4 linked regions of the Homo sapiens genome follow. The protein of the gene in region 3 interacts with the protein of the main gene of each other region in a biochemical or structural test. Each region holds a gene or a part of one and is shown on either strand. Other genes may lie near its edges. The genes, in order: SHC2, HTRA4, KDR and KPNA4.

Region 1 (7,040 bases), on a different chromosome or scaffold from region 3:
ACGCAGTACCTATACCCCAACGTGCACGGAAACCTAATACCGTGTGGATGACGCAGTACCTATATCCCAACGTGCACGGAAACCTAATACCGTGTGGATGACGCAGTACCTATATCCCAACATGCACGGAAACCTGATACCGTGTGGATGACGCAGTACCTATACCCCAACGTGCACAGAAACCTAATACCGTGTGGATGACGCAGTATGTATATCCAACGTGCACGGAAACCTAATACCGTGTGGATGACGCAGTACCTATACCCCAACGTGCACAGAAACCTAATACCGTGTGGATGACGCGGCACCTATATCTCAACATGCACAGAGACCTAATACCGTGTGGAAGACGCAGTACCTATATCCAACATGCATGGACACCTAATACCATGTGGATGACACAGTACCTATACCCAACATGCACGGAAACCTAATACCGTGTGGATAATGTAGTACTTATACCCAACATGCAAGGAATCTAGTGTGTGCAGGAAAAACAGACACTGATGATGAAAATCTCAGCAGAGTGTTAGGAGCAAGACGATCTCATAGATTAATGTGAAATAAGCAGAGAGGAGAAAGACTGAGGGGGAGCCAGCACAGGACAGGGCTGAGGAGCCCCAGAATCCTCGTGGGTACCCCTTGCAGCCCCAGCCCATCCTACCTGTACCGGTGGACCCCACGTCCCATGGCAGGCTGCAGGCATCTCTTAGAGAAGGAGATGGGCCCTGGAAACAGAGCAGTGAGAGGTTCCCCGGTGTGTGCAAGCCCCTCTTCCTGGCTCTGGACCCCCAGTCTCCCCGCCCGGCCCTCTTAGATGGCTGGAGACTTAGGGGTGGGGAGCACAGCCCTGGCCCTCCCATTGCTCTCTCACTCTGTAACTAGGCCCCCTGGGTCTGCCGCCCACCTCTGCCGTGGCCTTCCCCGCCTTCTCTCCACCTCGGAAGGTGGTCAGCACATCCTGCCACCTTGCAATGGCTGTTCCCCCTGCCTGGATAACCTTCCCCGCTCTGCTCTCCCAGGCAGCTCCTATTCACCAGTCAGGGCTCTACCCAAATGCCGCTTCCTCAGGGAAGGCCTCCGGACCGCCCTACAGAGTGTATGTCCCCATGGACATCCTCACTGCCTCTCTGGTGGACTTACCAAGGCCCTGATTAAATCATTGCCGTATTTATTTAGTGTCTGAGGGTAGAAGTCATGTCTGAAATGCCACCTCGTCTAATGTGTCCAGAGGAGGCCGGGCAGATAGATGGCGCTTCATCGTGAGTGAGATCGTGAGTGAGAGTTAGAGGAGGCCGGGCAGATAGATGGCGCTTCATCGTGAGTGAGATCGTGAGTGAGAGATAGAGGAGGCCAGGCAGATAGATGGCACTTCATCGTGAGTGAGATCGTGAGTGAGAGTTAGAGGAGGCCGGGCAGATGGCGCTTCATCGTGAGTGAGATCGTGAGTGAGAGATAGAGGAGGCCGGGCAGATGGCGCTTCATCGTGAGTGAGATCGTGAGTGAGAGATAGAGGAGGCCGGGCAGATGGCGCTTCATCGTGAGTGAGATCGTGAGTGAGAGATAGAGGAGGCCGGGCAGATAGATGGCGCTTCATCGTGAGTGAGATCGTGAGTGAGAGATAGAGGAGGCGGGGCAGATAGATGGCGCTTCATCGTGAGTGAGATCGTGAGTGAGAGATAGAGGAGGCCGGGCAGATAGATAGCGCTTCATCGTGAGTGAGATCGTGAGTGAGAGTTAGAGGAGGCCGGGCAGATAGATGGCGCTTCATCGTGAGTGAGATCGTGAGTGAGAGTTAGAGGAGGCCGGGCAGATAGATGGCGCTTCATCGTGAGTGAGATCGTGAGTGAGAGTTAGAGGAGGCCGGGCAGATGGCGCTTCATCGTGAGTGAGATCGTGAGTGAGAGATAGAGGAGGCCAGGCAGATAGATGGCGCTTCATCGTGAGTGAGATCGTGAGTGAGAGATAGAGGAGGCGGGGCAGATAGATGGCGCTTCATCGTGAGTGAGATCGTGAGTGAGAGATAGAGGAGGCCGGGCAGATAGATGGCGCTTCATCGTGAGTGAGATCGTGAGTGAGAGATAGAGGAGGCCGGGCAGATAGATGGCGCTTCATCGTGAGTGAGATCGTGAGTGAGAGATAGAGGAGGCCGGGCAGATACATGGCGCTTCATCGTGAGTGAGATCGTGAGTGAGAGTTAGAGGAGGCCGGGCAGATAGATGGCGCTTCATCGTGAGTGAGATCGTGAGTGAGAGTTAGAGGAGGCCGGGCAGATAGATGGCGCTTCATCGTGAGTGAGATCGTGAGTGAGAGATAGAGGAGGCGGGGCAGATAGATGGCGCTTCATCGTGAGTGAGATCGTGAGTGAGAGTTAGAGGAGGCCGGGCAGATAGATGGCGCTTCATCGTGAGTGAGATCGTGAGTGAGAGATAGAGGAGGCCGGGCAGATAGATGGCGCTTCATCGTGAGTGAGATCGTGAGTGAGAGATAGAGGAGGCCGGGCAGATAGATGGCGCTTCATCGTGAGTGAGATCGTGAGTGAGAGATAGAGGAGGCCGGGCAGATAGATGGCGCTTCATCGTGAGTGAGATCGTGAGTGAGAGATAGAGGAGGCCGGGCAGATAGATGGCGCTTCATCGTGAGTGAGATCGTGAGTGAGAGATAGAGGAGGCCGGGCAGATAGATGGCGCTTCATCGTGAGTGAGATCGTGAGTGAGAGATAGAGGAGGCCGGGCAGATAGATGGCGCTTCATCGTGAGTGAGATCGTGAGTGAGAGATAGAGGAGGCCGGGCAGATAGATGGCGCTTCATCGTGAGTGAGATCGTGAGTGAGAGTTAGAGGAGGCCGGGCAGATAGATGGCGCTTCATCGTGAGTGAGATCGTGAGTGAGAGTTAGAGGAGGCCGGGCAGATGGCGCTTCATCGTGAGTGAGATCGTGAGTGAGAGATAGAGGAGGCCGGGCAGATAGATGGCGCTTCATCGTGAGTGAGATCGTGAGTGAGAGATAGAGGAGGCCAGGCAGATAGATGGCGCTTCATCGTGAGTGAGATCGTGAGTGAGAGATAGAGGAGGCGGGGCAGATAGATGGCGCTTCATCGTGAGTGAGATCGTGAGTGAGAGATAGAGGAGGCCGGGCAGATAGATGGCGCTTCATCGTGAGTGAGATCGTGAGTGAGAGATAGAGGAGGCAGGGCAGATAGATGGCGCTTCATCGTGAGTGAGATCGTGAGTGAGAGTTAGAGGAGGCCGGGCAGATAGATGGCGCTTCATCGTGAGTGAGATCGTGAGTGAGAGATAGAGGAGGCGGGGCAGATAGATGGCGCTTCATCGTGAGTGAGATCGTGAGTGAGAGTTAGAGGAGGCCGGGCAGATAGATGGCGCTTCATCGTGAGTGAGATCGTGAGTGAGAGTTAGAGGAGGCCGGGCAGATGGCGCTTCATCGTGAGTGAGATCGTGAGTGAGAGATAGAGGAGGCCGGGCAGATAGATGGCGCTTCATCGTGAGTGAGATCGTGAGTGAGAGTTAGAGGAGGCCGGGCAGATGGCGCTTCATCGTGAGTGAGATAGTGAGTGAGAGATAGAGGAGGCCGGGCAGATAGATGGCGCTTCATCGTGAGTGAGATAGTGAGTGAGAGATAGAGGAGGCCGGGCAGATAGATGGCGCTTCATCGTGAGTGAGATCGTGAGTGAGAGTTAGAGGAGGCCGGGCAGATAGATGGCGCTTCATCGTGAGTGAGATCGTGAGTGAGAGTTAGAGGAGGCCGGGCAGATAGATGGCGCTTCATCGTGAGTGAGATCGTGAGTGAGAGTTAGAGGAGGCGGGGCAGATAGATGGCGCTTCATCGTGAGTGAGATCGTGAGTGAGAGATAGAGGAGGCGGGGCAGATAGATGGCGCTTCATCGTGAGTGAGATCGTGAGTGAGAGATAGAGGAGGCCGGGCAGATAGATGGCGCTTCATCGTGAGTGAGATCGTGAGTGAGAGATAGAGGAGGCCGGGCAGATAGATGGCGCTTCATCGTGAGTGAGATCGTGAGTGAGAGTTAGAGGAGGCCGGGCAGATAGATGGCGCTTCATCGTGAGTGAGATCGTGAGTGAGAGTTAGAGGAGGCCGGGCAGATGGCGCTTCATCGTGAGTGAGATAGTGAGTGAGAGATAGAGGAGGCCGGGCAGATACACGGCGCCCCATTGTGAGCCTGTGATTGAGTGAGTGAGTGAGATCCTGAGTGAGATCATGAGTGAGTGAGATCATGAGTGAGATCATGAGTGAGTGAGATCATGAGTGAGTGAGATCGTGACTGAGATCATGAGTCTGTGAGTGAGATCATGAGTGAGTGAGATCATGAGATCGTGAGTGAGATGATGAGTCTGAGTGAGATCGTGAGTCTGTGAGTGAGATAGTGAGTGAGACTGAGTGAGATCATGAGTCTGTGAGATAGTGAGCAAGTGAGTGAGATCGTGAGTCTGTGAGTGAGTGAAATCATGAGTGAGATCGTGAGCCTGTGAGATTGTGAGTGAGATTGTGAGTCTGTGAGTAAGTGAAATCATGAGTGAGTGAGTGAGTGAGTCTGAGTGAGAGACCCTCCTCTAGGATCGAGGAGAACAGGAGCAGAAAGAAGAGCTGGAGGTAGGTCCAGGGAACCAGCAGCTGGGGCATCCCTGTCCCCATCCCCCCGAGGGCAGAGGCTGACCTGGTCGAGGGCCGTGAGGGCGCAGGGCTGTGTCAGGGCCAGCCTGGAGTCCACTAGCCCGCCCAGCGGCGGCTCCTTCCCCGGGATGCTGTTGTAGTAATTGTGCTCCAAAGAGTCCTCCTCGTCCCCCCAGGCCGACTCCTCCGGCCCTGCCAGCCTGGGGGACAGACAACAACGGCCATGGCACAGGCAGGGCCCAAGGGGGCTAAAGCCTTACGGCTTGAGCTTCTGGGGGAGCAGGAAATATCTGAGTTCGAATCCCAGCCCCCCACCTGTCACTGAGGGTTCCTACCGGGAAACGCTTCTAGAGCCAGTGACCAGGCCCACTACTTCCTCATCTATAAAATGGAATGTTGCACACATTTCCGAGCTGTAGCACAAAAGGCAGGTCGTTGGCAAACCCAGTCTCCACTCCTTTCTGCCCACCTCCGGCCCCGCCCGGCAGCAGAGGGCATGAGCCAAGTTTATACCCAGAACCAGGACATCACCGGTCAGGGTGGCAACTCTCTGGGATCAAAGCGCCCCCGCCCTCTGGCCCCGATGGCACTGGCAGGAATTGATCCTGCAGGTGCTCCTCAGCAAGCACGGCCCCGAGAGCCAGAGGGGTGCACCCCACCTGGCCCACAGTCGCTGCTGGGATAAATTATGAAGCAGCCTACGGAAGGCAGAGGCAGCTCTGGAGGCAGGCGAGGAGCCCGTCTCAGCTTCGGAGCGTGCTGAGCAACGTGCATCAAGCACGCTGTCCCCGTGCACAAAGGGGTGAGTGTGAGCAGGCGTGCGATGCCGCCTCCCTCGTGACCAGCAGGCTGGGAGCTCATGCACCTGCACCTGCCCTCCCACCATTGGAGGAAGCTGACTTTCTAATGATGAATAGAGACTTAAATAGCTCCTTCTCCAAGGCCAGCTGGCAAACCCCAGCCCAGGGCCAAATCCAGCTCACCGCCTAGATCTGTGTGGCCCACGAGCTAAGAATGGGCTTTCAATCTTTAAATTATCAAAGTTAAGTGTTTGAGAAAACATCTAGAGAATCATATTTTGCAACACGTGGCATTCACACTTCAATGTCTATAAAAAACGTGTTACCAGCACACAGACACGTCCCCCCCTTTACACATGTTCTGCGGTGAGACGGAGGCCGTTTTCTGCCCATTGCGGGAGCCGGCCGCGCGTCTGGAGGAGGGATATTGGTTGTAGCAGCAGGGCTGACAGCCTCAGGCACACCGGGGAGTCAGCTTGCTTAGTCCTCCCCAATCCTGGGGGGCAGGCGGGGATGCGTTTACTCGGGTGTTAACAGCCGAGGAAACAGGATCCTCTGGCTGAGCCATATTCTCACGGGACAGGGAGGGAGGGACAAGGGCAGGACGGAGGCTGAGGCCTGCAGGAGGTGGAGCAGGCTCTGCACCTGGGCAGGTCACTGGGGGTGTCCCCAGGGCACGGGGGAGGCAGCTCTGGTTACCTTTCTGGGGGCAGCGCCACCTTGGGCGGGCTGTGCAGGTACTGCTTGAAGCGCAGCTCGAAAGCTTGGCCCACGGTGCTGATGATGCTCTGTGCCAGGCCCTCACAGCACTCCAGGATGTGGCAGGCTGCGGGCACGTTGGTCATGCAGCCTCCGAGCCACACGGCCGTGCCCCCCAGCCACAGGACCCCCACCGGCCTCCCCGGGGGCCTCACCTCTCTGGTTGATGGGGTCCTTGGCGACGTAGGCCACGTAATCCGTCATGTCCTGGGGGCGGGGAGGGGCCAGCTGGACCTGCCTGGGCCCCCCACCGGGATTCCCAGCTGCCCACCCCAGCAATGCAGAGAGATGGGGCAGTGGATGTGGGCACAGGGTACGTTAGGCGGGCTCTGGGGAAGGATGAGAGGGTCTCGCGGCCGGAGGGGGGCGGCAGGGCTGCAGGTCCACCCCCATCCCTGGCCTCACCGTGTCTCCGCCTGACGCGAAGGAGATGGACGGCATGTGGTGGTTGGCGATGACCTGTGGCGGCAGGAGGCACACGCGGTCATGGGGGCCCCGCTTCGAGGGCAGGGGGCCCGGCAGATGGACCAGGACCACAGCGAAGAGTGGGGCAGGGGCAGGGATGTGGGGATGGAGACGTCTCCTGGACAGGCACCCACTGCAGCCGGGTCCTGGGTCAGCCTGGACGACCGAGGCTGGGATGTGGAGTCCCCAGCAAGGAAGGGACTAGGGCCCTAAGGGATGTGTGGGGTCCGCAGGAGGTCACACGGGAATGTGTGTGAGAGGACAAACCTCCCCCACTGTAACACTTCACACATGTACCTGCCCAGACGCTCACACACACACACCCCAAGCCCCACACACATGCACACACACACACACACCCGAAGCAGCC
Region 2 (8,018 bases), on a different chromosome or scaffold from region 3:
GATAGTTAATAGAAACAGTTAGAGGCCAAGCGCAGTGGCTCACACCTGTAATCCCAGCACTTTGGGAGGCCGAAGCGGGCGGATCACTTGAGGTCAGGAGTTCGAGACCAGCCTGGCCAACATGGTAAAACCCAGTCTCTACTAAAAGTACAAAAATTAGCCAGGCGTGGTGGCAGGCACCTGTAATCCCAGGTACTCAGGAAGCTGAGGCAGGAGAATCACTTGAACCCAGGAGGCAGAGGTTGCAGTGAGCTGAGATTGAGCCACTGTACTCCAGCCTGGGTGACAGAGGGAGACTGTTTCAAAAAAAAAGAAAGAAAAGAAAGAAACGGTTAGGGATATACAGAAAGGCGTTGAAGCAAATAAATAAAAGAGGGAGTAAAGAACAGAAAGAAACCAGAGAAAAGCATATATTCAACAGAAAAGATGTGGTGTGAGAGTGTAGTGGGGCAGAAAATATCAGCAAATAGATAAAAATCCCCAAATATGTAGACTCTGACTCAGCCCTGAAATACTCACATTTGATTCAATCTTAATCACCGCAAGATCCAATTTAAGGTCAATATCCTTGACAACAGCTTCATAACGGGCCCCATTCTGGAGCACCACCTCAATCCACTGCTGGTTCCTGACAACATGGGCATTGGTAATAATGAGCCCGTCCTCAGACACTATGAACCCAGAGCCACTGTACACAGGAACAAGCCTGCTGCCGTGAAGTAACCTGTCTCCACAAGACAATAGTGTAAACAGAGGGCAAGAAAGTTAGGGGATACAGCCATATAATCTGAGTCATGGGAACCTCACTCTTATTAAACATACCTCCATCATAGTTTTCTTTTCTTTTCTTTTTTCTTTTTTGAGACAGAATCTCGCTCTGTTGCCCAAGCTGGAGTGCAGTGGCGCAATCTCGGCTCACTGCAACCACCTCCCAGGCTCCTGCCTCAGCCTCCCAAGTAGCTGGGATAACAGGCATGCACCACCACGCCTGGCTAATTTTTGTATTTTTAGTGGAGATGGGGTTTCACCATGTTGGCCAGGCTGCTCTCGAACGCCTGACCTCAGGTGATCCACCCGCCTCGGCCTCCCAAAGTGCTGGGATTACAGGCATGAGCCACCGTACCCAGCCTTCCTTCAGTTTTCTCAGACATTTCACTTTTCCCTGGCTATGCGTAAATTTTCTCCATGTATCAGTGGACTTGGCAGGTACAGGGCCCCAGCCATCTCTTGTGAGCATGGTTGAGAGTGGGGTCCAGCTCTCCTTTTCCAGGGACACTGCTTCTTCAGAGCTGGTTAGTGTAGCAGCCCATGGGTTCTCTGCTGCGAAAAGACTGAACCCAATCCTAATACTAGAGGCAAAAGTCAGCCTCTTACCACAGTATCAAGGACCCAGGCAGGAGAGAATCAAAGGGCTCTGATTCTGGCTTAGTTTCCACCGCCAACTGGCCTCGTAACATAGTAACATAGGACAAATTAACCCTGCTCTCTGGGTCTGGATTTCCTTGTATCCAAAGTGGGGGCTGAGCAAGATCACAACCAAAATGCCTACTAAGCTGGATGTGGTGGCTACACCCGTAATCCCAGCACGTCGGGAGGCTAAGGTGGCAGATCGTTTGGGCCCAGGAGTTCGAGACCAGCCTGAGCAATATAACAAGACCTCGTCTCTACAAAAAAATACAAATATTAGCTGGGTATGGTGGCACCTGCCTATAGTCCCAGTTACTCCAGAGGCTGGGTTGGGAGGATTACTTGAGCCCAGCAGATGGAGCTGCAGTGAGCCGTGATCTGTCACTGCATTTCAGCCCTGGCGACAGAGCAAGACCTTGTCTCAAAAAAAGAAAAGAAATTGCCTACTAGCTCTTATATCTGACCTTAAATTTTGTCTGTGGCAGGAGGGGGAAAAAGCACCAGCCACCTAAGTGGGCAGGGGGAGCTGGGATTTAGAAGTCAGCATCCTTGTGCCTCTGCTCTTTGGTTAAATGACCTTGAACAGGTTATTCAACCTCTTTACGTCTCAGTTTCCTCACTGGTTTTTTAGGATTAAATGACGCTTGCGAAGGGTCTGGAGCAGGTAGGCACGCAGAAACCATTAGCTGGGACAGTGGAGGTCTTCCTCCTCCTCCTTTACCTGCCCCACAGCTGCACGTGAACCACCGATGGCGCCACCTTCTCCACCACCGCGGCGATGAAGTTGTAATTCCTCCTGAGCGGGCCTGCGCTTCTGGTCCCTATGAAAAAATACTGGCTCAAGAGTACGCCTCGAGGGAACCAGACCTGCTATCCTAGTTGGAAAAATGTTAAAGGCAAGACAGTGTTCAAAAGGTGCATGGGGAGGGAGAAACCACGTAGCAGCCGGTAAAGAGCCCCTGTTAAGGAGGAAAGGAAATCAGGAACACAGAGGTGTCGAATCCAGGAGGCAAATGACGCAGGAGGACCAGGCGCGAACTGTGCGGTCTCAGTGAGGTCTTGTTCCTTTACGCTCCTCCAGAGTTAGAAAGTGTTCCGAGGGCGCGCGCCCCCGCGGCTCACCTGTATCCCCGCAGTTCCCCCACTGCACAGGCACGGCCGGGACCTTGCCCAGGCGGCGCGCGGCGCGGTTTTCGGCCCGGAGCGCGCACATGCTGGGGTAGGTGCGCCTGTCGCTGCCGCACACGGCCCCTCCCAGCGTCGGGCAACCGCAGGTGCTGGGGAACCCGGGGCGCAGCGGCTGGAGGCACTGCAGCCCCGGGGCGCACGGTTGGCCCTGCGCCCCGCCGCAGACTTCACGCTCGGCCGCGGGGCAGACGCGGCAACAGCGGCACAGGTCGAACACCGGCGTGGTCCCCAGCGCGCAGGTGGGCAGCGCGGGGCAGCGCGTGGGCTGGCAGACCGCGGGGCAGGAGGGCTGGGTATGTAGCTTTTCAGCCCCGGCCCAGAGGACGGGCACCAGGAGCAGCAGCAGCCCCGGCAGGAGGCATCGTCCCAGCCCCGCGGTCCGCAGCTGAGGTCTAATCATCCTGTTCCTTCCTCGCTTCCACTCTTCAGTGACTTTACTCTGGACCTGCAAACCCTCCTAAATGAGAGACACTTTCTCCCGGCCACGGCGCCGCCTCCGCCGGCCCCCAAACTTTAAGGGGCAGAGCCTGGCATACCTCTGCATATACACACCCGTACATCCCCTACCACCCGCCCCCGTCGGCGCCCCGGAGCCAGGTTCTCCCCCAGGCAATGAGGGGAAGGTCTCTAGCCCTACCCGGAGCAGGAACCTACCTCCTGAAATCCCTAAAACCGACAATGAGGGCAGACTGATAAGAAAGCTCACCCACCCATGGTCAGAAGGTCAGTATTAGGAAAACACATGACCATATTTCAGTATTTCACATGGTTTTATTACAAAACAAGCCACAAAACAGTTTTAGAAAATTTTTGCTACATACCAATTAGGAGATCACATAAAATGAGAAGCGTAACAGTTTCCATGCACTCAGCCTAGAGCTTACAGCGAGTGCATTTCACAGCTGAAACATCACTGCTTTAAAACACAGAATCATGCTACCCCTTCATAAGCAGAGGGGGAGGAGGTCAAACAGTATGTTTTTGCCAAACGTTTGCTTTATCTGAACTCTATCTAGTATGAAGGACTGGCTGCCGCAGGCAATAACACAGAGAGGAAAAGGAACAAAGGAAGAAAAGGGTGCTGGCAGACAAGATTTAACAAACCTGTCCACTTCCGACATTTTGAAAGTTTATAAACAAAGCTCACTTGGGGACACTCAATTTCCAAAATGCTGTGACCTCCACATGTTATCTAATTTATACTGAAAACAAACCTACTAAACTCCACTCCTCAACTACTGAACCTGCTATTTATTCATGGGGTCTTTTTAGCCCATATAAGAGTATATTTATATTCAGAAATATAAAAGAAAAAAAATTTGCTTCAAGTAGACTAAGAAGCTGGACCTTAAAACTACTTTCTTTCTCGTGGGAGCTGAGTATTCAACTCAGAAATAGATGTATAACTCCAATATTCTGACCTGACATCAATCTCCATAATGTATACCTCAATACCCTTATGATGTCTCACTTAACACTAAAGGCCAAATTATTTTTACCAACCATCAGCTGACATTGAGTAAGCAAGTCTTTTGAAGATTTCAAAAGTAATAGATGGTGGCCAGGCGTGGTGGCTCACACCTATAATCTGAGTACTTTGGGAGGCTGTGAGGCAGGAAGATCACTTGAGCCCAGGAGGTCCAGGCTGCAGTGAGCCATGATCAGGCCACTGCACTCCAGCCTGGGTGACAGAGTGAAACACTGTTTCTAAAAATAAAAATTAAAGAATAATGGATGGCATTATTCAGCCATGGGGAGGACCACCTGAAATACTGTTACACACAGTGGGTCAAGACCACTTCAAAAGCCTTATGAAAATAGCACAACTCAGGCAAGGCTTTTATTCCACAAAGAAAATGCAGTACATTTTTTAGTTCCTTTAAAAAAAAAAAAACTCAGATTTACTCCAGAGCCTATGCACTTAGTCACTAATCTATACTGCATCCCCAACCTATTTTTTCCATTTGGTTCAATTTTATACATTTAAAACTAACTGCTTTGGTCAAATACGTACCATCTTTGGTTCACATTAAAAGATTATGGTCCAAAACTGGCCAGAAGTTAAGAAATATCAACAAAATAGGAAGTTTGAAATACAATTTAGGAATGGAATGCTTTTAGAGCTTGTTTCATTGAAGATAATAATTTATCTCATATTGAACTACATTAACGATGTTCTGGCTAGGTGCAGTGGCTCACACCTGTAATCCCAACACTTTAGGAGGCCAAGGCAGGAGGATCACTTGGGCCAGGAGTTTGAGAGAGCCTGGGCAACATAGCCAGGCTCTGTAGATAAAAAAAAATTAAAAATTAGCCAGGCGTGGTAGCACAACCCTGTAGTCCTAGCTACTTGGGAAGCTAACATGGGAGGATTGCTTAAGCCCAGAGATTCAAAGTTATGATGAACTATGATCACACCACTGCACTCTAGCCTGGGTAAGAGAGTGAGACCCTGTCTTTTAAAAATTAAAAAAAAAAAATTAAAAACAAGCAATGCTCTAATGTGGAATTCCCAAGTGTTTGCCAATTGACAAGAAGATTTCCATTTGACAGTCTTAGTGTCCTCGTTTCCCTTTATCAGGATAATACCATATGGATTCTATGTATGTTTAATTTGTCACATTCTCAAAAGAGATCTTGCTGAATAAGAAACAAATCAGCTTATTATAATGGCCAATTAATTTAGCAATAGTAACCTATCAGATAATTTTTTTTTTGAGATGGAGTCTTGCTCTGTCGCCCAGGCTGGAGTGCAGTGGCGCGATCTTGGCTCACTGCAAGCTCCGCCTCCCAGGTTCACACCATTCTCCTGCCGCAGCCTCCCAAGTAGCTGGGACTACAGGCGCCTGCCACTGCGCCCGGCTAATTTTTTTTTCGTATTTTTAGTAGAGACGGGGTTTCACCGCGGTCTCGATCTCCTGACCTCGTGATCCGCTCGCCTCGGCCTCCCAAAGTGCTGGGATTACAGGCGTGAGCCACCTTGCCGGCCTTATCAGATAATTTATTTAAAAGAAAAGAGAGAGAGAGAGATAAATGGGTAGATTTTCACAATGTATACACCAAAAGAGGACATCTTTTCCGTGAGTCAGGGAATATTTAAAGAGATATCAAAAGTCCCTATTTTCATGAGTTCCACATCACATATTTTGTGCTTTCTTTGAATAGCCAAAAAATTTTCTTGGGGAAAATACGAGAGTAAAACCAGAGCTAAGGAGCTATAAGAATTTGGAATGGCTTCTTGAAATCATGCCGCTCCAAGTATGTCATAACCTCGATCACTCAAAAATACATAACTCCCAAACCAAGAATTTCTGAGGGCAAAAGCACACCAGCGTGTATAGGAAAGGCAGGGGAAGGGATGGAAGGGAGAGAAAGAGGGAACAATGTAGATTTCCTGTTTTATACCAGGAAAACTAGGCCAAACTCAATTTAAATGAATAGCTCCAAAGCAGTGCAGTCAGAAAAAGTTCTCAGTGTGACATAGACTTCAGGGAAACAACACGTCCTGAAAGAAACATGATTCCCCTCAAGCCACAAAGGATTTTCTCATCAAGTGTTTTCACCTCTGCATTAGATTTGGACACAAGAAGAGGAGAGCATTTACTCAGGTAAAAATAGTTCTCTTAGTCTCTTCCTCTAGTTACTAATTTTTAATTTAAAAATACAATTAACTGATCTAGCTGATAAAAGTCACAGACAGAAATAAGCTAAGTTCTCTCTTCCTTTAGGGAACGCTGGTGGCAATTCACCATATAAACTGGATGGAAGAATTCTCCCAGGGACACTGGAAATAGCATCTTCTTATCAAATGGAAGGAGGTACGCCCTAAAATTTGGGTGGGACACTCAATTTTCTTTTATATTTTGAGACGGAGTTTCACTCTTGTTGCCCTGACTGGAGTGCAATGGCGCGATCTTGGCTCACTGCAACCTCCACCTCCTGGGTTCAAGTGAATCTCCTGCCTCAGCCTCTGAGTAGCTGGGATTACAGGCCTGCACCACCACGCCCGGCTAATTTTGCATATTTTTTAGTAGAGGCGGGGTTTCACCATGTTGGCCAGGCTGATCTCGAACTCCTGACCTCAGGTGATCCACCCGCCTCAGCCTCCCAAACTACTGGCATTACAGGCGTGAGCCACCATGCCCGCTCAAAACTCAATTTTCTAGGCTCTTTTATCTGAGGAATCTCTGGCCAGCAACTCATAACATCTAAATCAATGTTTCTATGCCAAGCTTCTATTTCATTAAAAATATATATCTCTCTCTAGATTCTTTTTGTATCTCTTCATGTTAAGTGCATGGAAATTCATCCTATTACAGGGTCTGATCATGCAAGCACACAAGGCTTCATTCAAAGGGCAACAGCAAGAAGAAAGAGAAAGCAAGTTTGCAAGGGTACAAAACACATAGCGCTTAAAATTAGACTAATGCTGGCCCATTCCAAAAGAGCTGCGAGGCACCTGGACTGAAAACAAAATGAAAAAACTAAAACAAGGACAAGGAAATAAAACTTGGTCATTGGTGAAACTGGACTTCCAGCCCCCTCTGGAGAGGAGCTGCTAAAACAATCCCTCTCCAGGAAGACCTCAGAATAGTTAGAATAGAATAGGTAGCTTCCTCTCCACTGAGTATGCCTACAGTTCTAACCTAGTGACTTCCCCAAATTAAATACACTGCGTTGATATTACACACACACACACACACACACACACACACACACACAGCCCAGCTGGATGGGCCCCTCCCTCCCAAAGAGCATCCACAGGAATATGAGTGACATAAAGGCCTCTGACTACCCTCCAACAAGGTAGAGAAACTGAGTCACAGCCTCCTTCTCTCAAGTCCTCCCTCCCTCCCTCCCTCCCATGGCACTGTGCTCCATCACACATCAGAGGTCCGTATGTTTTCATCATCAAGGTTGAACATAAACGGCTTCTCCTTGGGGTGCTGGGGCTCCGATCTGTGCCTTATCCGGGAGCTGGGCAGCACCCCAGGAGCGCTGCCCTCCCCAGGACGAGGCGTGAACAAGGAGTCCTCTGAAGTGTCTCCAGGTGGAAGCAGCTTCTCCCCAGCCTGGGGGACAGGTGTCCAGGGCTGCCAGGAGGAGGCCACAGAGGGGGCTTTGCAGAGGGCTTTCTTTTCCTCCAAAGGTGGCCGCCCCCTGCACAGGATAGAGTTGGGCCCACTTGAAAGGCTGGAGCTTCCAGGTCGGGTCAAAGAAATGGATCTAGAAAAGGACGTTTCCTATAAAAATAAAAGGAAGAAAAAGACAAAAGAAAGTTAGGGCTTTTCAGACAATGTTTATCACAGAGTCCCAGAAAGAGTACCCAACCAGGATCACCACCTCATAAGTCCAAGGATGCTTGCCTACAAAAATGAAATACAGTCAAAAGGATTCACTCCAAATGTGTCAACGTCAGCCTG
Region 3 (7,040 bases):
CTGTGTGGTGTGTGAGAACATGTGCAGTCACTTATTCATTTTGCCTGCATTTGTTCATATTGGGATCCTCAGATTCAATGCACTGGATGTTTGCACTGGGTATTTACTTATACTCTCTCTATTTATTCCGTCTCATACTTCGTCCTATTTGTTCATACTCTCTTATTTGCCCAGCAAGGTCAATGCCAGTTTAGGCCTAGGGAGTCATTTTTTCTTAGTTGATATGACTTAGAAAGCTTGGGAGCCTGCCCAACATCAATTACTTTTTTAAAGCTGGTATTTTCTAGGTCTTGATATTTATTAAGACCCTAGCATAGTGGACAATTTTTCTTTCTCTCATGCTTTTTCAACACCTCATAGCTCTTCACATTTAGTTGACAGAGAATTCAGTTATCTTGCTGTAGAGTGACCCATGGTGAGGAATCTATGCCATGGTACTTTTCTGGTTCTTATCCCTTATAGGTAAAGACAAGTTTCTTATGTCTGAAGCTTGATGTCAGGATGAGTTCAGGGCTTTGATGAATAAGTTCAGATCTCCCAATTGTAATTCATTAGCATTGCACTTAAAAAAATTTATATACGTTTTTAAAAAAGGGTAATGCTAATGAATTACAATAGAGAGAAAAGTACATTAGTTTGCATGTATGTGTGAAACTGGGAAAATTTTTCACGAAAATATTCATATACTTTTTAAAAAAAGGGTAATGCTAATGAATTACAGTAGACAGAAAAGTATATTAATTTGCACATATGTGTAAAATTGGGAAAATTCCACACATACATAAAAGTATATTAATATGCATGTATGTGTGGAATTGGGGAATGTTTTCTCTTCCTCAGTTTCTCTCCCTTGCTTTTAATGTACAGTCTTTATGAGCCATTATTTCAGCTGTGGCAGTTTGGTTACCAGGGGAAGCGCACTAGAAAATTGATAAAGGAAAATGAGACAAGGTCATAGATTCTCTCACTCCCTTCAGGGTACGTAGATGAACTATATAAAAATCCGTCTAAGTGGGATTCGTTAATCAGCAATTTAGTCAAATGTGTACATCCTATGTTCTATAAGAAATGTCAGTGGGTCCTTTCCCAAGGGAGTGAGATCATCAGATGAAGGTTCATTTGGTTTCAATGTCCCGTATCCTTTTGTAAGACCTTGAAGTTGGCAATGCAGGAAAACAGGAACTCCACCCTAGCTCCATGAATTGCAGAACTGTTGTGTTGGTTTATGACCATCTGCCCATTCTTCCTGTTATGACACAGCTTGTGAACTTTTACTGAGAATGGTGAAAAGTAAATTCCCAGTTTTATACAATGAATTGCTGAAGAGGCCTTTTAAAGTATAGAGTATGCATTGTTTATGGAAGGTGTTTCCTATTAGGTCTAACTCAGTGGCAACTACATTCATTTATTTAATTTGTTTCTAGGTTTGCCTAGTGTTTCTCTTGATCTGCCCAGGCTCAGCATACAAAAAGACATACTTACAATTAAGGCTAATACAACTCTTCAAATTACTTGCAGGTAAGGATTCATTCTAGATCTAGATTTCTTGTGTTAAGTAACTGATTGTTTATTGAGTGGAAATAATTTCCAGTAGAGCAGAATTATAATAGAGCTTGTAGTAATTGTTCATAAGTGGTGAGGTTTCTAAGAACTGATGTAATAATGGAAAATGAGAAGAATTTTCTCTCAAAAATTCTGTACAATTTTGCTGGTGTTTTTATACTATTCTCTGCCAACATGCATACACACACACACACACACACGCACACAAATACACACCCACACCCACATTCCAATAACCAGTACAGCCACCTGGCGTATAGTAGACATACGCTCAATAAATATGAATGAATAAATGAAGTTGAGGGCATACATTTAAGGAATAGAGTTGAAAAAATTTGGGACTATATTTATTATGCTTGGTATGATTCTTGAACACTTATTATCCCTTTCCAAAAACTTTGCTTTATAAGAAATTTATTACTATAATTACTTAGGCAGTAATATTTAATAGCAATTTAATATTTAGTGGGTAATATTACTGAGCGCATGATCTACATAAATAATGGACTTCGGGCCCTGCCTTGATATTCTGGAATGCATCTTTCCCCACTTGCTAGCAAGAAGTCATGCTATTGATTTTTGATAACTGGAGAAGTAGACTTCTTTGTCAAGAAGAAGAGGCCTTTAAATTTTGCCTTTCAACCCTTACCCCAGGACGAAAGATAGAAGACCCTTGGGTTTAACATAGTGATCACACACGAAAGGCATGGAGCCTTCTTAGGACCTGTGTGTTTTTGGTAGAGACTGTGACAAGTGGAGGTGATGTTACCCTCCTGGAAGAGTGCTGGGGGTCCACAAAGGACCTTGGGTAGGTTATTGCCATTGCTTCATACTTGTTGAATACTAAGCATTAAACCGAATGACATACATCTATTTTAGACTGCAGTATAAAGAATACCCTAGCCCCTTACCAATACCCAGCCCTTGGGAAAAAACACAGTAGCAGGTGCTGTTTCTCTAGCTTTACTTGTTTAAGACACATTTCCCATTAGATTTTCCTTTTACCGACCCTCGATAACAAGGTTATTTGAAATCCCCAAGGATCCCATGCTCCCTTTTTAAAACTCTGCATAAACATTTCTTATGTTCTGAAAAAAACCATGGAGTGTGTTAAAAGTAACTTCATTGATTTAGCTGCAACTTCCTGGAAATTTTAAGTTCTTTGAATGAAGGGCCAATAATGTTACATTCTTCTTGATGTTGACTATCTTCTTATCTTCCTTGGGGCCTTGTAGAGAAATGCTGCAGTACAAGCCATCTATGTTTTAATGCGAGGTCCTTACAAGGTCCTGAGGGACTCTTACTTGCACCTCCTTCCTTCCTAACCTCACTTCTTACTCCCCTTTGCTCACTCTTACCTGGCTGCTCTGGTTTCCTGGCTGTTCCCTTAATACTCCAGATATGCACCTGCTCCAGGGCCTTTCCATGTGCTGTTTTTGCTCCTGTAATACTGCTCTTCATGATGTTCCTATGGCTAGCTTTATCAAGACCACCTCCTGCAAAATTCTTTACTCTTTTCTTTGTATCTTCTATATTTTTCTCCATAGTACTAAACACTATCTTTTATACAATAAACTTTCCTTACTTTTTAATTGCCTGTTTTCTCCAGTTAGACTGAGGTTCCATAAAGGCATTGATTTTTGTCTGATTTGTTCACTGCTCTTTCTCTAGTCCTTAACAAGTTTGGCACATAGTAGATGCTTAATAGATATTTGTTGAAAGAAAGAATGCATTAATTAATGGAAAACTCAGGAATCTTTATAAGTGACTTCTGAAGCTGAGTTTATAACTTTTCATCATATGTCAATCTGACTTGTTGGTAGAAGACTTTGTTTTTTTTTTTTTGAGGCAGGGTTGCCCTCTTGCCCAGGCTGAAGTGCAGTGGTGTGATTTTGGCTCACTGCAACCTCCACCTCCCGGGTTCAAGCAATTCTCATGCCTCAGCCTCCTGAGTAGCTGGGATTACAGGCATGCGCCACCACACCTGGCTCATTTTTGTATTTTTAGTAGAGACAGGGTTTTACCATGTTGCCCAGCCTGGTCTCGAACTCCTGGCCTCAGGTGATCCATCCGCCTTGGCCTCCCAAAGTGCTGGGATTATAGGCATGAGCCACCATGCCTGGCCGGTAGAAGACTGACTGTGTCTGTTGAAGAGTTTATTTAAGTTTCAAAACCAAATTTTCTCTTTTCTTAGAAATAGCCTCACAGTCTGGCACTTCATATTAATACCTCCCTGAAATTAATTTTTCAGGGGACAGAGGGACTTGGACTGGCTTTGGCCCAATAATCAGAGTGGCAGTGAGCAAAGGGTGGAGGTGACTGAGTGCAGCGATGGCCTCTTCTGTAAGACACTCACAATTCCAAAAGTGATCGGAAATGACACTGGAGCCTACAAGTGCTTCTACCGGGAAACTGACTTGGCCTCGGTCATTTATGTCTATGTTCAAGGTAAGTGGTGAAATAAAATTCATTTCCCACGTCTCTTTACCAGTTATAAAAGACAATAGGCTCAAAGAAGAATTGAGTACAACAAAGGGCTTGCTCTAAAGGCTGTTTGCCAAGAGGAATACACACAATTCTTCTCTCCTGAGGCTTTCTCTGAGAAATAAGACTCATTGATTCTGGAGCTTGGGCCGTGTTACCTCTTTTTTGCCCAGTTAGTTTGGGTCTGATCTTTGTTTCCAAGGTAAATCTGTGTTCACTGTTGGCCATTGAGACTTATAAAAAGTCTTCCTATGTTTGAGAAGAAAACCTAAAATTCTTGAAATCGAGGAAGATTTGGGGGTGAATTATGGAGAAATTTCTGTGGAGAGATAAGTTATCTACAGCAGAGTAGGAGATTTTCCCAAGAATGCATAGGAAAGCATTTTTTGCCAAGGGCTCTGGAGTTTTTTGCACATAGGAACCTTTTTTTCTTACTAGTATTTCATAAAAAACAATTCCCATACTCATGTGCAAATAAAGACATTGCTTCAGACTCTTTTCAGGACAATGTTTCTTTCCTTTGCTTGTTTGGTCTGAGATCTTGGATGATATGCTGTATCTTTCTAGGATGTGCAGTTTGGGATTGATATTATGAAGGCTGACTTAACATCCATATAGTATAAAATAAATGTCACACATATTCTGCATTTATAATGAGTTATGCATTCTTTTGTGTTTCAAAAATCTTACACTATCTTATCTTTTCTGTGAAAACCTAACTTAACTAATGAGATCCCTATGATATAAATTTAAGGAATGTAAGGGCTGCATCATAGTTTGGTTGGATGTACCAAATATTTTTCTTTTCAGTGAAGATAAACAGACATTTTATGTATTTACGTATATGCCTTTTTACATCCCAGAGTATTTGAGACAGGTGAAGATGACTTAGACTTTTTTCCCAGAAGCAGCTTTTACAGGGCAAGAATTTCATCAGCTTTGGGAAACACACTTGCATATCTCTGCTTACATTTCAGTAGTGTAATATGGTCAGTGCAATGAAAAAGTGGAGACCACATCAAAATAACCTATGCCACTGGATTCACAATGTTTGAGAAATATCTTTGCCCAGAGTAAGCACTGTCAAAGATAGAATTCTGTGCCCTCCTCCTTCCCTCCACAAGATTTGAAAGAGACAAGGCTCACATCTTGGAGAATTTCTGGCTCCTTTTGACCTGGCAGTCTTGAGAGATGCAGCTCGGTCAGAAGATTGCAAGGATTTCCTGCTTTCAGCCTGTCTAGAAATACTACAAGATGAACATCCCCCATATCTCATTATTTACTTCTTCCTAAGTCAGGAAACTTGGAGACATGTGAAAATTCATTTCATGAGTTTCAGTAAATATTTTATTTTGAGAGGCTGGGTGGTGGTTTGGGTTTCTTTTGTTTATTTCCTTTTTTTGAGATACCGAAATAGAATTGATTTACTAAATAGGTTTAGTCTTACGTCAAAGGGTTAATTTAGCTTCCAAAGGCTTGCTCTGTAAGCAAGTTATGTAATATTTCATAACATGTGGATGAAAGGTAGGCAATATTAAGAAGTGGCAATCCCTAGCACTGTTTATTGGTACACTGCCTGTCTTTGGGTATACCATTAAATTCTGCTTCCTGTCTAAGCTTAAAGTTCTAGGAGTTGGGCTGTCCAAGATTTTGGCCATGAAGTTAAACAATGGGAAAGGAAACACTGAAGTATTCTCTATGGATAGGTGTTTAATGTCCCCTCTGGTCGCCACCTTACTTCCCTAGTCTTCTGACCCCATTCTCTTCAGCAATGGATGGAGCCAGGAAGTGAGCCCTGGCCTCATAAGATAATGGCTATGGCATGTGGTGGGCTAGATTGGCTGCTTTTCTGTGCTTTCCAGCTGGGAAGGAAATCAAACTTCTGCTGTTGCAGGGAATTAGCTGCCTTTGTCCCCTGTGGTTTAATTAACTCTTTCTTCACTTTGACTGACTATTATGAAGCACTCTGAGAATGCTTGATGGGATGTGTTGGGCATAGCAATGTGAAATGTTATCTCTCTGAGATTTCAAGCATGACTCCACACCACATCATCTCTATCTCTGAGGAATGGACTAGGTTTCCAGCAGCATGTTAACATTGTATGAGTAATGTTTGATTGGCCTTGAAATCTTTTTTTTTTTTTTTTTTTGAGACGGAGTTTTGCTCTTGTTGCCCAGGCTAAAGTGCAGTGGTGCTATCTCAGCTCACTGCAACTTCTGCCCCCCGGTTCAAATGATTCTCCTGCCTCAGCCTCTGAAATAGCTGGGACTACAGGTGCGTGCCATCATGCCTGGCTAATTTTTTGTATTTTTCGTAGAGATGGGGTTTTGCCACGTTGGTCAGGCTGGTCTCAAACTCCTGACCTCAAGTGATCCACCTGCCTCAGCCTCCCAAAGTGCTGGGATTACAGGCGTGAGCCAAGAACCCAGTCAGAATCTCTTCAGTTTTCTTCTCAGTCTTTGGAGTGGTGACTTTTCAAATGTTTGTCATTGAAGATATCAATGACTGCTAAATGTTAAACTAAATGCAAAAACAATTAAACATGGTTTTAGAAAGAATCATATCCCTAGTCTTCAGAATCTTAAAATGCTCACATGAATGGTCCTCTTGAATAACCAAATTCAAAAGTGTTAGCTGTTTCCTGTTAATCTAAAGATCCTTTGGGATCCATTCATTTATTTTCATGGAATTTACATTATTTACCTAAAGAGAGAGCACATGAGTATTTTAAATATTAGTAAAACTTGTCGGTAAAGTGTATAGATTTAACTTTAAATTTTAAAGTAAATATTATCCTTCATTTTGAAAAAATTATAATGATTAATCTTTTAAAATGTGAAATCTATAAAAATATATTCTGCTTGTCAATAAACCTTGTGAAAGGAGTCAATCTCAATTGGGAGTTTTTTTTCAAAATTTTTATACACACAGATATATACACATGCATGTGCATGCACAAACACACACACACACATACACACACACCCTCATG
Region 4 (5,065 bases), on a different chromosome or scaffold from region 3:
TGGGAAGGGCTTTTCTGTCTCTGAAATTGATTCAGTACAGTTGACAGTTCATCACGGTTACCTGGTTAAACACTTTTTTTTTTTTTTTAATTCTCCAGTGATCTAGGAAATTGTTTCATTTTTAACACAGGCTTATTTCTGATGGGGATGGGGGCATAGAATAATATGCCTAATAAGCTAAACGTTCTTAACGTTTCATGTCTTAAACTGTCTTTTTGAACATTGAGACCACCTCAAGTGCTGTAAAAATAAGAATGTTATATTAGGGGTGTGTGAGACGCCCTAGTCTAAAATCTATCTTTAAATATATTTCCTTTGTAATTTTCAAAGACTTCAGTAATTGTGTGTTATGGTGGAAATAATACTTTCCATTGGTCCACATTGCTCTGGACCAAACCTGGAGCATTTCTATAATTAGAGCTATCTATGAATCATTAAAAATGGATCTAGAATAATTTTGGGGAGAGGGAGTGTATCATTTAGTTTAGGCTTACCTCAGCAGCACTTCATAGGGTGAGGAGTTGTTTGTTTCTTTAAAGGTATAACTGCATTGTAAAATGACTGGGTTTATTGTAACAGTAATTTATGGGGGCACCCTTTTTGGATTCTCCATTGCCTCAGTTTCCTCAAGGAAAAAGTTACAGAGATTAAGCTAAATTTTGAATTTAGAGAATAACTGCTGTGTAATTTTGGTATAATTACCATAAATTTAGTGTCTTAAAACACAACATACATTATTTCACAATTTCTGTAGGTCAAGAGTGTAGTTAGGTTTTCTGCTCAGGGTCTCACAAGGCTGCAATAAAGGTGTCAGCCAGAGCTGCAGTCTTATCTGAAGCTAGGGGGTCCTCTTTTATGCACATATGGCAAAATCCATTGCCTAGCAACTGAAGAAATCATGGGAACTTCTTCAAGGCCAGCAAGAGAATCTCTGATCTCAGGGAAGGCCTTAAGCGCTTTTTTAAAGGTCTCACCTGATTAGATCAGGCCACCTACCCACCAGGGTGATCTCCCTTTTGATTAACCCAAAGCCAAACTGATGAGGTACCTTCATTACCCCTGCAAAATCCCTTCACCTTTGCCCTGCATTGTAGTCCAATCACAGGGGTGATACGCATCATATTCAAAGATCCTGTTCACAGTCAAGGGAGGGGGTTATATGGAGTATGTATACCAGGGAATCTTGGGAGCCATCTTAAGAGTTCTTCCTATGACAAGGACTCAACTATTTAGAACTGGAACAATTTACAAGTGATAGCCTTATATAGTTATCATAGCAAGCTTATTTGGGGATCAAGGTTGCCTCTGAGAACCTAATGAAAACTGGACCAGCTTCCCCAAAAAGTGTATATACATGGTAGTTTTTCATACAGTTTTAGGGGATTCATAAGAGTCCATGAATTACAGTCTGTCCCAACCCTTCCCTTTAGATGATGAGTTGTTGAGGTGACTTGCCCAAGGTCACACAGCTACTAAGGGCCAAATAAAGCCCACATCTCAACTCCCATACTGCCCAGGGCTTCTAATTACTATTCTAAAGGTAATCTAAATTCATTTAAATTTGTGAACCAATGCAAAAAAATGTGAATGTAGCTTTTTGGATATTTTTTTTGTTTACTAAGGAATGGGTAACATTGTTATAGAAGCTTGCCTAAGAGTTTTGAAATTAGTTGACCTTTTTGAGTTTCCAAAATTGAATCTTCCATTGTAGCTATTAAAGTGAACTATAAATAGGCCAACTTTAATTGTTAACTCCTCGGGTTTGGTGGATTATCTACCATTTATATATAAAATTTCAGTTAGAATCCACCATTGGCGTTTTGAAGGCCAAGATAGCTGAGTATCTTATCCTTTTTGTAACTTCTTGATTATTTTACTTATTGGCAAAATTCATTAACTGTCAGCCAATAATTTAATATTATGGGAGGAAAAAATTTTGCCCAGATATCTGAGGCAATACTCCCAAACACTAACAAACTGATGCCTAACAAACTTGACATTTTGAACACTTAAAGTTTTCCCTAAACTTTTTAATAAGCACATTAATAAAGTATGCTTTTAAATATATATGTACAATAATTTTTAAAAGTTGCTGCAAGATGCCTTCAAATCAATATGCACGTTGGTGGCATTAGTGCAGTCTTCTATTTTTATTTTTTTGAGACACAGTCTCGCTCTGTGGCCCAGGCTGGAGTGTAGTGGCGCAATCTCGGCTCACTGCAACCTCTGCCTCAAGGGTTCAAGCAATTCTGCCTCAGCCTCCTGAGTAGCTGGGATTACAGGAGTACGCTACCACGCCTGGCTAATTTTTGTATTTTTAGTAGAAATGGGGTTTCACCGTATTGGCCAGGCTGGTATTGGAATCCTGACCGCAAATGATCTGCCCACCTCGGCTTCCCAAAGTGCTGGGATTACAGGCGTGAGCCACTGCGCCCAACCAGCCTTAATTCTTAATAAAGGAAGTTGAAAAATAATGAACATTGGTAAAACTATTCTAGTGTGATCAGAAGCAAATTTGGACTGTAGTGTCAAATTGATAAAAAACTAAGCACACCAATCATGTATAAGAAAAGTAGATTTAACATTTTTTTCCCTAAACACTTAACCCAGAAGTTAACAATAATCTTGAAAATTCCTTTTAAATCCAGGCCCTTTAGGTGATGGCAGTTTGACTCAGGATGTCCAAGTCCAGTGTATTTTCAATAAAATTGACTTGACAGCTACTGCTCTGGGTGTAAGAGCAGTTGACTGTGAGGAAAAGTAAATGGTTCTACAGATTCTTTATGATCTACCTCCCACCAGAGGACTGCAGTACTCCCTTGTTATTTATATTTTCTGCCCCAATTTTTGCCTTCTCCACAAATTTTATACCTTTTGTAGCTGCCTACTCCAGATTACTTCACCTTTCCAGACTATCAGTTCTTCCACTTTTATTCTTCATAAAGAAAATTCCAATAACCTGTTTCACTTAGGTTTTTCTATTACTCTTCAAGCATGAATCCTAATTTCCCTGACTATATCTTACCTCTGATCTCCATAACTGATGGATTCCTATCCTAGACTATGTTACTCTAATATTACCCAAGATTTTCTCCAGCCTGTTTTTACTCTTACTTTGAAACAGCTGTTTAAAATGACTCGTAATCTGCTTAAATCTACATGCTTTTTGTGGTTCTCAATCCAGTTACCTACCTTCCAGATAATTCCCTCACTGTCCTGTCCTCTCCATTCCTCTGATGTTTAAGCCCTGTGAGCCACCTTTCCCCCATCCTTTGTGCATAGTTACCATTTTACTCTTTCTTGTTGCCCAGGCAGGAATGCAGTGGTGCCATCTTGGCTCACTGCAACCTCCACCTCCTAGGTTCAAGCGATTCTCCTGCCTCAGCCTCCTGAGTAGCTGGGACCACAAGCGTGCACCACCACGCCCGGCTAATTTTTGTATTTTTAGTAGAGATGGGGTTTCACCACGTTGGCCAGGCTGGTCTCGAACTCCTGACCTCAGATGATCCACCCTCCTTGGCCTCCCAAAGTGCTGGGATTGCAGGCGTGAGCCACCGCCTGGCCACCATTTTACTCTTTTTAGGTACAGTAATCTAATATCCAAAGTCTTGGACTCAGCTAAAGAGGGTATTTACCTTAAAAAAAAAAAAAAAAAGACTCCATCTTTTGATTCATAATTGTGGTGGGGGCGGGGAATCAAGACAACCTTAGTCACTTTGGTATTACCATAATTCTTGTCTTTTCAGGGTTGTCCTGTTCAGCTGCATAAAACATCATGTATTCTAGGTATTTCCTACCTTCACTTACATTTTTACTTGCCGATGTGCTGCCTTCATAAATGGGTATATTCCGCCACACATCTAGTAAGCCCCCAATGCAGTACACAATGTGTATCACTGATAAAACTCGCACTTCTGCCATGTCAGTATTATATTCAGTTGAGTGGTCTTTAGCATAGTGGCAGTCCTAGTCATCCTAACCTTTTAGTTAAGGTAAAATTACATATGTTTATAGAACTCATATAGACAAGCTAGTTTTTAAAATCTTCCTTTTAACCAGTTTAGGATGATCTAGGATAGCTAAGTTACCTACATGGTGACTGTTCGGTCTAATTCAGAAACAGAAGTACTAAAAGAATACTAAAAAGTTTTTACCCATTATCTCTATCCCTGTTTTCTTTTTGCAATTCTCAGCTGCAGGGAGCAAGAAAATACACAGCAGATAGGAAATGTTTGTTTGCATCCTGGCTTTCTCAACCGCACTTTACGTCCTTGAATATTCTAGATATTTACTCCTTCAAGAAGTCAGGAGTATATCCAGGCCTACCTATCATCCTTGCCATCCCCATTAACCCTCATTTTTCAGTATGTGTTTTACATTTATGGTTATTTTTCAGTCTATAGTATCTGTTCACTCATTGCTCTATCACATCTGAGTTTCTCCGTCTTTCTTTCCACTAGATTGTAAGCTCCTTAAGGGCAAGGTCGGCATATAAGCAAAGTTCTGTAAACACCGTGAAGGTACCATGAGTTCTATGGGTACTCAATAAATGCTTGTGATAATGATGCAATTTCTCAGATGAACTGATTGTAGTGACTACCTCTAAAAGCCTTCAATCTACAGTTTTTAAATTTGTCTCATTGCATCTGAGTTTTAGAAAGCCTTCGATAGAAAGGGAAGATACTTCATAGCTTGCCAGATGAATGCCCATTTCCTTATTTCCTTTTCCTCACTTTTGATATTTTGCCCAGTGTCTGGTCTGGATATCTGACATCCATAAGGGTATTGAAATGGATCCTTGTGTGGTTTTCAGATACCAGTTATATATATTATGAAGCAGAGGTAACCTAATATTGTCTAACACTATTGATACAGTTTATATTTTGGAAATACTGTATGGATGATTTATTGAAATAACTTATAATAAGATATTTTACAAGGAAATATCCAAACCACAAAGTTAAGTGATTGCTGTTTTGGTCAGTCAGCTATAGTATGAAATTATTAGAATGCTTTGGTTTATTTATGTATGTGAAGTTATTTTATCCCTATGTGCTTCAGTTTC

What was found.
Region 1: the proteins of KDR (region 3) and SHC2 form a complex in vitro, tested with the Homo sapiens proteins (2 studies listed by BioGRID).
Region 2: of the proteins of KDR (region 3) and HTRA4, one has a biochemical effect on the other in vitro, tested with the Homo sapiens proteins (one study listed by IntAct).
Region 4: the proteins of KDR (region 3) and KPNA4 interact in a test that uses a peptide from one of them, tested with the Homo sapiens proteins (one study listed by BioGRID).

What each region holds. Positions count from the first base shown.
Region 1 is NC_000019.10:430,020-437,059, forward strand, and holds part of SHC2 (SHC-transforming protein 2), read right to left. Parts: intron 6,665-7,040; coding exon 6,611-6,664; intron 6,413-6,610; coding exon 6,361-6,412; intron 6,273-6,360; coding exon 6,146-6,272; intron 4,847-6,145; coding exon 4,690-4,846; intron 729-4,689; coding exon 665-728; intron 1-664. UniProt on the Homo sapiens protein: Signaling adapter that couples activated growth factor receptors to signaling pathway in neurons. Involved in the signal transduction pathways of neurotrophin-activated Trk receptors in cortical neurons.
Region 2 is NC_000008.11:38,969,241-38,977,258, reverse strand, and holds the start of HTRA4 (serine protease HTRA4 precursor), read right to left. Parts: upstream 3,032-8,018; 5' UTR 2,996-3,031; coding exon 2,530-2,995; intron 2,229-2,529; coding exon 2,129-2,228; intron 725-2,128; coding exon 520-724; intron 1-519. Other genes in the region: PLEKHA2 (pleckstrin homology domain-containing family A member 2), read right to left, coding at 7,476-7,838. UniProt on the Homo sapiens protein: Serine protease.
Region 3 is NC_000004.12:55,115,575-55,122,614, reverse strand, and holds part of KDR (vascular endothelial growth factor receptor 2 precursor), read left to right. Parts: intron 1-1,424; coding exon 1,425-1,518; intron 1,519-3,814; coding exon 3,815-4,011; intron 4,012-7,040. UniProt on the Homo sapiens protein: Tyrosine-protein kinase that acts as a cell-surface receptor for VEGFA, VEGFC and VEGFD. Plays an essential role in the regulation of angiogenesis, vascular development, vascular permeability, and embryonic hematopoiesis.
Region 4 is NC_000003.12:160,494,507-160,499,571, reverse strand, and holds the end of KPNA4 (importin subunit alpha-3), read left to right. Parts: 3' UTR 1-4,565; downstream 4,566-5,065. UniProt on the Homo sapiens protein: Functions in nuclear protein import as an adapter protein for nuclear receptor KPNB1. Binds specifically and directly to substrates containing either a simple or bipartite NLS motif.